Linked DNA regions of Homo sapiens. The protein of the gene in region 1 purifies or fractionates together with the protein of each later gene. This does not show direct contact. Each region holds a gene or a part of one and is shown in the gene's direction. Other genes may lie near its edges. The genes, in order: SP4, PTPRA and VRK3.

Region 1 (3,748 bases):
TCTTTATTCGAATTGCTTTGTCTTGCTGCATGGCTTTGTCATCAGCTGATTTTGCAATTACCTTAACAAGCAAAGGAAATGCCAGTCAAGTTCAGCATCTGGGACCTCCTCACCATTGCAACATGTCAGGCCTCAGGCAGGAGACAAAAATGCCCAAGGCTGAGTGTGAAGCCCAGGTAAGAAGTGAGACAATGGCTTTGAGCCTGGGGTGTAAGCATGCCTTGTTCCCAAGGCCAGTATTTACATGTGGGGTCACTTCCACCTTTGGTACAGTTAATCAGGCGCTGATTACGTTCCATGGCATCATCCTGACTTCAGGACTTTGTAGGAAAGCTGAGGCAGGACACTGCTCAAGTGCATTTGACAGTAAGATGCTTTGTGCAGCCAGATGTTAATTCCACTTGCCCTTACGCTTGCTTACGCTACACCGTAAGCGGGGCTGACCCTTATGGAGCTGGGCTTTTCTTCGCCCGGAGACTCTTGTCAGATAAGGCTTAGAACTCCGCCAACCACTTAGGCTTTTAGGCAAAACGCGATGCAACCCTTCTTAGAAGGCGGGTCACTGCTCTGCACCAGCTGCCAGCCAGAGAGACAACAAATAAAAATGGAAGATCCTTCTCCGTGAGAAAACAGGCCTCGGACTCAAAGCAGGGGGCCTGAGGGGAAGGTGAGCAAAGAAAGGCAAGGCGAGGGCGCTGCTTCAAGAAGCCGGGTTCATTCAAACCCCGAGGACAGCAAACCCCGCCTCCCCACGCCGCCGCCCGCTCAATCGCCGAGCGCTCCGGGTGTGAGCTCGCCCCGCGGGGAGCGGCTTGGAGCCGAGGAGGCGGCGGCAGAGGTGGTTTGGGCAGCCCCGCGCGGCGGATAGGCCCAGGCAAACAACACCCATTCCCCCTCCTCCTCGCTCAGTTCAACTCCCACTCGGCCCCGGCCACGCCCTGCCGCCACCGCCCCCTCGGGCAGCTTTCCGCTCGGCAGCCAGGCCTCGGTCGGGGGCGGGAGAGAGGCGGTGCCTCGAAGAAGGCACCGCGACCGCCGGAAACTACGAGTACCGACAGCCTTCGCGGTAGTGCCCCACCCCCTTTCTCCCACCACTCAGCGCGCGTCACCCTGGGCTCAGCCAATGGAGACAGAGCCAGGGAAAAAGGGCGCCCGGGTCCGGATGCGCCTCAGGAAAGCCATGCTCCCTGCGCGGGGGCAGCGGGCAGTTCACCCAGCGCGCCGACCTGTTGGTGGTCCGCGCGCGCCCACGTCCGCCGCTCTCGCTTGCCTGGATCAAGGGCCCTACTTTTTTCTTTAGTGGCAATTGGAGGGATTGCTGGAGGGGGTTTTTGAGTGGAGGGCGCTGGGAAATGAGTAGGGGGCGGGATATCCTGAGACAACAAGTTTGGCTGTATGGAGGGCCTACCGGCAGCGCTCCTGAGCTAGAACGCCGAGAGAAAGAGCGCCAGAGGAGCCAGGGAGGAGGAGAAGAGCTGCTAAAGGAATAACCCCGAGAAAGGGGGTGGAGAGGAGGCGGCCCCAGCGCCCCGGCCCCCGGCAGGTCGGCGGCCAATCCGCTGGGGGAAGGGGTGGAGAGTCGGAGGCTCCGGCGGAGAGAGGCCGAGGGGGGTGGGGAGTCGGCCAGGCTCGCACCGCCCTGGCCCCGCCCCCGACCCGCGCCGCCGCCCGCGCCGCGCGCCGCCGCTGTCAATCAAGGGCGAGTCAGCCGGGCTCGGGCGGAGAGAGGAGCTGCTACGCCACAGCCCAGCGGCGGCCATTCGCGGAAAAAGAGGCAGAGCCTGTGCCAGCTACAGCCTCCTCCGAGCCACCGCGGGCGGGCGGGACCGGCCTCTCCTCCCGCCTCGCCCCCACCCCCACCCACCTCTATCCCAGTGTCTCCGTCTGAGGGTTTGTCCTGTTAATGCGGGATGAGCGGTACGTATTCTCCACCCCCCTCAGTCTCCTTCGCCGCCTCCCTCTCTCCCTCCCTCCCCAGACCCTGCTCGGTTCTCCCCCCTCCCCCGGGGCCGCTGAGATGCTTTAAGGGGAGGAGGAGAGGGCGGGAGGGAATCGGGGAGGGAAGGAGGGTTGTGTTTTGTCTTAATGTCTGAGAGAGAACAACCTCCTTCTGGGTGTTGCTCTGGAGCCGATGGGTCGGGTTTCAAACCACGTTTTGTGATATCCCCCTCCTCCCTTCCCTCCTTCTCCCCCACCCCCTGCCGGTGTGCGTGGATCGCGGGTTTATGGAGATTAATGTTCGGGGGGAGGGGGGAGAAGAGGAGAGGAAGAAGACGAATAATAATAATCCTAATAACCTGTTGTCGTGTGTGTGTGGTGGGGGGGTTTGTTGCAGATCAGAAGAAGGAGGAGGAGGAGGAGGCGGCAGCGGCAGCGGCGATGGCTACAGAAGGAGGGAAAACCTCTGAGCCAGAGAATAACAATAAAAAACCCAAAACCTCAGGCTCCCAGGTAAAAGCAAACAAATTAAAAAAATTCATCACGACACATTAGGAGAGAGAGGGAGTTATGCCCTTTGAATGTCCAGAAGTAACAGAATAAAATGTTTATCCACTCAAAGCATCTTTCTGAGAGTGTGGAACTTAAATTGTAAATTCATCAAGTTTTCACCTCTTTGAGGGTATAACGCTGTTTAAAATTACATCAGGAATTCAGACTATAAGAAAACGGTGTGTGTGTTCCCAAGGGCATTTTGAGTTTAGGAACATAACACTTTACAAAGTTGTAAAGAAATTTCCTTTTATTTAAACTTGATATTATAGGACTTGCTTCCTTATTCATATAGTTCTTATCTACTTTTGTTCGTATTTCTTTTTGATTTCTGCTGCTTCCTAAATTGTTATGTAGAGCTGTCAAAATAAGTAACCCCCTGGCAACTACTGGCCTCCACTAAATCCGCCCACTTTTTTTCCCCCCCCCCTCTCCTTTACCGTCCCATTTTGGGTAGGACTCTCAGCCCTCTCCTCTGGCTTTACTGGCAGCTACTTGCAGCAAAATAGGGACTCCTGGTGAAAATCAAGCAACTGGACAACAACAAATTATTATAGATCCAAGTCAAGGATTGGTGCAACTTCAAAATCAACCACAACAGCTAGAACTGGTAACAACGCAACTTGCTGGAAACGCTTGGCAACTTGTTGCCTCCACTCCTCCTGCTTCAAAAGAGAATAACGTTTCTCAACCAGCCTCTAGTTCGTCTAGTTCTTCCAGCAGTAATAACGGGAGTGCATCTCCTACAAAAACTAAATCAGGTAATTCTTCCACCCCTGGTCAATTTCAAGTCATACAAGTACAAAATCCAAGTGGTAGTGTACAGTACCAAGTAATTCCACAACTTCAGACAGTGGAAGGTCAACAAATTCAAATCAATCCAACTAGTAGTTCATCTCTACAGGATTTGCAGGGTCAAATTCAGCTCATTTCTGCAGGTAATAATCAAGCTATACTCACAGCTGCTAACAGGACAGCTTCTGGGAATATTCTTGCTCAAAACCTGGCAAATCAGACAGTTCCGGTCCAAATTAGACCTGGTGTTTCAATACCACTGCAGTTACAGACTCTTCCTGGTACTCAGGCTCAAGTTGTAACAACCCTACCAATTAACATTGGAGGAGTGACTCTAGCTTTGCCAGTGATAAACAACGTGGCTGCCGGAGGAGGGACTGGGCAGGTTGGCCAGCCTGCTGCTACTGCTGATAGTGGGACTTCCAATGGGAATCAATTAGTTTCCACACCCACCAACACCACT
Region 2 (3,748 bases), on another chromosome or scaffold:
CCTGCTCGTCCCTGGGAATGGAATGTCTTGGTGTAAAACCCGATCGTACATTCTATTTACTGAGATAGGAGAAAACCGCCTTATGGCTGGAGGTGAGATATGCTGGCGGCAATACTGCTCTTTACTGCACTGAGATGTTTGTGTAAAGTCAGACATAAATCTGGCCTACGTGCACATCAAGGCACAGCACCTTTCCTTAAACTTATTTATGACACAGAGTCCTTTGCTCACATGTTTTTCTGCTGACCCTCTGCCCACCATTACCCTATAGTCCTGCCACATCCCCTTAGCCGAGATAGTAGAGATAGTGATCAATAAATACTGAGGGAACTCAGAGACGAGTGCTGGCGCATGTCCTCCGTATGCTGAGCACCGGTCCCCTGGCCCACTGTTCTTTCTCTATACTTTGTCTCTGTGTCTTCTTTCTTTCCTCAGTCTCTCGTCCCACCTGACGAGAAACATCCACAGGTGTGGAGGGGCTAGCCCCTTTCATGTGATGAAGGGCTCTTATAAATTATGTATTCAAAGAAATCGAGCACAGAGGAGGTTGTGGTTTCATGCCTGGGAGAGTCAGGAAGGCAGATGACAGGTTACTGGACTTCAAAGATTAGGGAACAGGCAGCTGAAAGAGCCAGTGCCCAGAGACATGATGAAGCTCGGCCACATCTGGGAGCAGCAGTGAGATTGGCTCTGCAGTTGGGGCATAGCACCAGGAGGGAGGCAGGGACCAGACTATCACGGGCTTTGGGTGTCTCCAGTTTCTGACAGCCCCTTCAGACTATTAAATCTGCACTCTCAGAATGAACAGGAATTGAGTTTGTCCTTCTCTCCAGGCGTCCACCACCCCCAAGATAGACCTGGACCCTTCTTCCCAAGTAAAGCACCCCCACAGGGACTCCTGCATTTCAAGTCCCACTTCACTAAATTGGGATAATAAGAGGGAGTCCTTTTATTCCTGCTAGGATCAAAGGAGAAATGGACTGGAGTGAAGTGGGGGTGGGAACAGGTGATCTGGCATGAGAACTATGTTGTATGTAACCAAGAACTTCTGTGTCATTCATGTTTCAGATGCAGTATGTCTTCATATACCAAGCCCTTCTGGAGCATTATCTCTATGGAGATACAGAACTGGAAGTGACCTCTCTAGAAACCCACCTGCAGAAAATTTACAACAAAATCCCAGGGACCAGCAACAATGGATTAGAGGAGGAGTTTAAGGTGAGTTGGAGCTGGATAACCTCCTTCAGATTGAAGGATCCTTGTAATCTGGGGAACATGGGATGCCTGACTGTGCATTTGCCAACAGTAAATCCCCTTGTGAGGCATGCCAGTGGTTAAGGAGATGGTCCTTTCCTCGTACTCTGGTAACTCTCAACTCATCCTGCACGTTGGAATCACTTTGGTTGTGTTAGAGTAGGGAGAAGCAGGCAACAGTATTTTAAGGCCCCTAGCCCTCCGAGGTGATTATGATACACAGCAAGAGCAGTTTTTTCTGTAAGAGCCAGATAATAAATATTTTAGGCTTTGCAGCCCACATGGTTTCTATCCAGCTACTTAGTGCTGTCTTTGTAACACAAAGGCAGCCATAACCAATAGGTAAATATAATGAGTGTGGCTGTTTTATAAAACTTTATTTGCAGGCAGCAGGCAGCAGGCCAGATTTGGCCTCTGGACCTTAGATCACTGATAGCTCCTATATGCCACTAGACAATGGTTCTCAACACACCTAAGGCATATGTCACACTGTCATCAGTAAAAGTGCTCTCCCAGGCTGGGCACAGTGGCTCACGCCTGTAATCACAGCACTTTGGGAGGCTGAGACAGGTGGATCATGAGGTCAGGAGTTCCAGACCAGCCTGGCCAATATGGTGAAACCCCGTCTCTACTAAAAATACAAAAAGTAGCCAGGCATGATGGCACATGCCTGTAGTCCCAGCTACTCAGGAGGCTGAGGCGAGAGAATTGCTTGAACCCGGAAGGCAGAGGTTGCAGTGAGCCGAAATCATGCCACTGCACTCCAGCCTGGGCGACAGAGCGAGACTCCATCTCAAAAAAAAAAAAAAAAAAAGTGCTTTCTCAGAAGCAGGAGATTCTGGGTTGGGGTGGGGAGGACCACTTAGAGAAGTTCTTCTCAAATATAGCATGTGCACAGATTTCTTTGGGATCCTGTCAAGATGTGGGTTCTGCCAGGCACGGTGGCTAATGCCTGTAATCCCAGCACTTTGGGAGGCCAAGTCAGGCAGATCACCTGAGCTCAGGAGTTCAAGACCAGCCTGACCAACACGGAGAAACTCTGTCTCTATTAAAAATACAAAATTAGCCAGGCATGGTGGCACATGCCTGTAATCCCAGCTACTTGGGAGGCTGAGGCAGGAGAATCACTTGAACCCAGGAGGCAGAGATTGCAGTGAGCTGAGATTGTGCCACTGCACTCCAGCCTGGGTGACAGAGCAAGACTCTGTCTCAAAAAAAAAAAAAAAAAAGATATTAGGTTCTGATTCAGCAGGTATGAGTTAGAGCTTGAGATTCTGCATTTCTTTTTTTCTTTTCTTTTTTTTTGAGATGGAGTTTCACTCTTGTCACCCGGGCTGGGGTGCAATGGCGCGATCTCAGCTCACTGCAACCTCTGCCTCCCGGGTTCAAGGGATTCTTCTGTCTCAGCCTCCTAAGTAGCTGGGTCTACAGGCACGTGCCACTACCCCCGGCTAATTTTTAGTAGAGACAGGGTTTCACCATGTTGGCCATGCGGGTCTCAAACTCCTAACCTCAGTTGATTGCCCACCTTGGCCTCCCAAAGTGCTGGGATTACAGGCATGAGCCACCACGCCCGGCTTGAGATTCTGCATTTCTAATAAGGTGAAGCCAACGCTGCTGGTGTATGGGCTACACTTTGAGTAGCAAATGTCAAGAAGGAGCCTCAATCGGGAAGGGAGGATGCAATTCTGAATAAGTTTTTTTGAAGAGCCTTAGGCAGCCTCTGGGGGTGGAACTGCAGAGTGGACACACTCCCTCCTACGATGCTGGAATCCCTTGCTCCAGGATCACAAAATTCCAAGCCAGGAGAATCTCAAGAGAGTCCACAGGAGCCTGGAAGGTAGCATTTCCCAAACAGTCTCTTGGCTTCAGGGTTCCAGCTGAACATATGGGAACAGAGGTCAGGGCCCTGGTGAGAAGAGCAGTATGGAGCCAGAGTGGCCTGGAGGTGCAGGCCAAGGGACAGGCATAATCTTGTCAAGTTCAGTTACTGGGATCAGTAATGTTTCCCCTCCCCTTCCCAATTCAGAAGTTAACATCAATCAAAATCCAGAATGACAAGATGCGGACTGGAAACCTTCCAGCCAACATGAAGAAGAACCGTGTTTTACAGATCATTCCATGTAAGAGCCCTCCCGCCACTCCAAAGCCTTATTGCCCCATCCCTCAATTCCCTCCACCCCTTCCATTTCTCAGGTACTAGTTAATGATTGGCGTATAGACAAGAATCATGGCATTGCCTCTTGTTGCACCCACTTAACAACATGGCGTTGCCTTTTGTTGCACCTTAGTGGCTTCTGGAAATAACGTAAAAGCCAAAGGCTTTCTCCCTAATGAGCTAGGAACAGACATGTCCTTGCCCAGCTGGGATTCTGTCTGCCCAGGGCCTGAGGTGGGAGCAATGCAAGGAGAGGGAGAGGACAAATGATATTGGCTAGCCATAAGCCGCTATTCTTCTTACAGATGAATTCAACAGAGTGATCATTCCAGTTAA
Region 3 (3,748 bases), on another chromosome or scaffold:
TTCATTCATCCCCATTAAATATTCATCAGGCACTTGCTGGGTGCCAGACGCTGTCCCCGGGGCTGGGTGCAGAGCAGGGAGCAGCATAAACATGGTTTCTGTGTCTTAGAGCTCACAGTCTAGTGGGAGGGGCCAATAGTGAATCAAACAGTTGCACAAACTATGACAAGTGCTCTGAATAGAAGCGGCCCCTGCTGTGATTGAGAGTAAGAGGGCCCAGTTTGCATCGCTGGAGGGATGGACGTACCAAGGGAGCGACATGCTGAGTCCTAAGGTCTTTATGTTCAGTATCTGCAGTATGGCACTGCAGTGCGGAAGAGATGGAGTTGGTCTGGAGAGGTCAGCGGTGACCACATCACACGGGGCCTCGCACAGCAGGCTGAGGGGCTGGGATCTGTCTTGAGGGCACTGGAGAGCCACAAGAGTGCTGGGATTAGGGGAGGGCGGGGTCAGCTCTGGGTACAGAAAGGCCCTCAGGGGCCATATGGGGAGGGACTGGAATGGGGAGAAGAATCTGAGTGAGGGTCCATGTGGGAGAGGACAAGGCTGAGGAGGGTCCCGGGCCCCGGGGGTGGAGAGTCTATAGGAGGAGAACGAGCAGAATTTGGTGGACAGTAGAGCCCTGGGGTCAAAGAGGGTTGGGGATATGATCAGAATGTAGCTGACACTCAGGCAGCAGACACAATCAAAGAATTGGCCGGGCGCAGCAGCTCATGCCAGTAATCCCAGCACTTTGGGAGGACGAGGCAGGTGGATCACTTGAGCTCAGGAGTTCAAGACCAGCCTGGGCAACATGGCAAAATGCCCTCTCTAATAAAAATACAAAAAATTAGCCGGGTGTGGTGGCACCCACCTGTAGTCCCAGCTACTTGTGAGGCTGAGGTGGGAGGATCACCTGAGCTTGGGAAATCAAGGCTACAGTGAGCAGTGATTGTACCACTGCACTCCAGCCTGGGCAACAGGAGTAAGACCCTGTCTCAAAAATATATATATACACACAGCAAAAAAAGAGTCTGGAGCTCATAGGGACAGCTGGAGCTGGAGATCAAGATATAAATTGCTTAACAAGATTTATTTCTGCTCTCTAGGACAGGTGAGAAGAGCTCTTTGATATCCACAGGTGCTGAGTCATTTTTGCAGAGAGACATTAACCCCTTTTCCCTCTGCTGAGTTTGTCATCAGCTAAGAGAGAAATACAGGAGTAGATAGGAAGCCACGCTTTAGCTCAATTGATGAGCTTCCTGAGAGCCTGATTAGAGGCGTGCTCAATGTGCTGTCACAGCGGGCTCCTCATGCTACCCCGGATTTAGTCAGGTTTAACCCCCAGTCACAGTGTCGGACAACCCCAGGCCTTAATAGTGGGGCTCCCTCCTGGTCTGCACCATAGCCTCTCTGTGTTAGTCGTACTGCTCATGCAGACACTGACTTGCTTCTTCCCCCAGCTGGATGCCCTGGAGTTCCTCCATGAGAATGAGTATGTTCATGGAAATGTGACAGCTGAAAATATCTTTGTGGATCCAGAGGACCAGAGTCAGGTAAGAGCCAGCTCCTGCCCACTCTGGAAGATCTCTGGGCTCAGGTTCCCATCTGTCTCCAAATCTCTATTTATTTCATAGTGCTTATTACAGACAAAGGATTGCTGTCCATCATATATAAAGAGCTCCTTCAAATAAATAAGATAAGCAACTTAGTAGGAAAATGGACAAAGGATAAGAAAAGCAATTCTTAAAAAAAGAAATCCACAGGCTAGCTAAATAATATGAAAAGATATTCAACCTCCTTAGTAACTATAGAGATGTAACTTAAAACAAGATACTATTTTCACCCTTTGAACAAAATTAAGCATGATAATAATATTCATTGCTGATAAGGATATAAGGAAGTAGGAATTCTTCATATACTGTTGGAAGCATGAATTGGGAAACCCTTTTGGAAGGCAATAACAGTCACAGTTTTAAATGCACCTGTTTTTTGTCTTTGATTTTGTTTTGAGATGGAGTTTCACTCTTGTTGCCCAGGCTGGAGTGCAATGGCACGATCTCGGCTCATCACAACCTCCACCTCCTGGGTTCAAGCGATTCTCTGTCAGCCTCCTGAGTAGCTGGGATTACAGGCATGCGCCACTACGCCTAGCTAATTTTGTATTTTTAGTAGAGATGGGGTTTCTCCATGTTGGTCAGGCTGGCCTCGAACTCCTGACCTCAGGTGATCCGCCCGCCTTTGCCTCCCAAGGTGCTGGGATTACAGGCCTGAGCCACCGTGCCCGGCCAAAATGCACCTGTTTTTTGATCCACAAGTTCCTGTCTTAGGAAGGTGTCCTACCTATATATTCATAGGATTGTTCAAAGATAAGTGTACAAGATGTTCCTGGCAACACTGATTGTAATAGTGAAATGGGAAACACCTTAAGCGGGATACTGATTAAATAGTATTTTAAAGTAACTTCTAATTGCTCTTACAATTACAAATGACAGAAACCCAACTTTACATGCCTTAAGCCAAAAACCAAAAGGGACTGTGTGCAATGTATTAGTCCACAGAATGGAGCAATCCAGGACTGCACTGTCTCGGGCACGGCAGGATCCAGGAGCTCAAACCCTGTCATTGGGAAGCCGGCTCTCCCATCTCTGGACTCCTCATGCTTCTGCACTGCTCGTTGTCAGGCAGACTTATTCCTCATGGTGACAAAATTGCCACCAGCAAATTAGGCTTAAATCCCCAAAGCTTAGCAGCCCTGGCAGAAACAGACCTGAACTGCGTGGACTGAGAACTGGGGAAAAGCAATCCCAGATGAAAATCCTGGAACTAAGCATTAGGAATCTTCAGAGAAACAGAACTGGCAGGGTGTGTGTGTGTGTGCGTGTGTGTGTGTGTGTAGAGATTTATTATAAGGAATTGGCTTATTGATAATGGAAGCTAAGCAGTCCTGAGATTCTTCAGTTTGCAATCTGGAGACCTAGGAGAGCCAATGATGTAAGTTCCAATCCAAAGGCCAGCAGGCCTGAGACCCAAGAAGAGGGGTTGTTTCAGTTCAAGTCCAAAGGCAGGAAAAGACCAATGTTCTAGCTCAAGCAGTCAGGGAGGAGGAGCTTCTGGTTACTTAGCTTTTTATTCTATTCACATCTTGAGTTGATTGAATGAGACCCACCCACATTAAGGAGAATAATCTGCCTTGCTCAGTCTACAAACCCCAATGTTCATCTCATCCAGAACACCCTCATAGACACTCCCAGAATAGGGTTTGGCCAAATGTCTGGGCACCCCATGGCCCAGTCAAGTTGCCACATAAAAATGACCATCATGGCCAGGCCCAGTGGCTCACACCTGTAATTCCAGCAGTTTAGGAGGCCAAAGTGGAAGGATCGGATCGCTTGAGCCCAGGAGTTCGAGACCAGCCTGGGAAACATAGGGAACCTCATCTGTACAAAATAAAAAATAATAACCTATCCAGGTGTAGTGGCATACACATGTGGTTCCAGCTACTCAGGAGGCTGAGGTAGAAGGATCACCTGAGCCCAGGAGATGGAGACTGCAGTGAGCCATGATCATACCACTGCACTCCAACCTGCGTGACCCAGTGAGACCCTGTCTCAAAACTTAAAAAAAAAAAATTATTTTTTTAATGAACACCACAAACTGTAAACAGAAAAACAGGGAGCCGGGGAAGTGTATATAGGTCTTACATAGACAAAACCAACAGTTGTCCACTATCCATATGGTGGAATAAGATGCAGCCATTGAAAAGAAG

What was found.
Region 2: the proteins of SP4 (region 1) and PTPRA purify together in Homo sapiens (affinity purification with mass spectrometry; 2 studies listed by BioGRID and IntAct, with this or other methods). This does not show direct contact.
Region 3: the proteins of SP4 (region 1) and VRK3 purify together in Homo sapiens (affinity purification with mass spectrometry; 2 studies listed by BioGRID and IntAct, with this or other methods). This does not show direct contact.

What each region holds. Positions count from the first base shown.
Region 1 is NC_000007.14:21,426,342-21,430,089, forward strand, and holds the start of SP4 (transcription factor Sp4), read left to right. Parts: upstream 1-1,741; 5' UTR 1,742-1,910; coding exon 1,911-1,917; intron 1,918-2,335; coding exon 2,336-2,451; exon of another isoform or gene 2,452-2,562; intron 2,563-2,947; coding exon 2,948-3,748. UniProt on the Homo sapiens protein: Binds to GT and GC boxes promoters elements. Probable transcriptional activator.
Region 2 is NC_000020.11:3,023,404-3,027,151, forward strand, and holds part of PTPRA (receptor-type tyrosine-protein phosphatase alpha isoform 1 precursor), read left to right. Parts: intron 1-1,068; coding exon 1,069-1,218; intron 1,219-3,283; coding exon 3,284-3,377; intron 3,378-3,717; coding exon 3,718-3,748. UniProt on the Homo sapiens protein: Tyrosine protein phosphatase which is involved in integrin-mediated focal adhesion formation.
Region 3 is NC_000019.10:49,990,647-49,994,394, reverse strand, and holds part of VRK3 (serine/threonine-protein kinase VRK3), read left to right. Parts: intron 1-1,442; coding exon 1,443-1,535; intron 1,536-3,748. UniProt on the Homo sapiens protein: Plays a role in the regulation of the cell cycle by phosphorylating the nuclear envelope protein barrier-to-autointegration factor/BAF that is required for disassembly and reassembly, respectively, of the nuclear envelope during mitosis.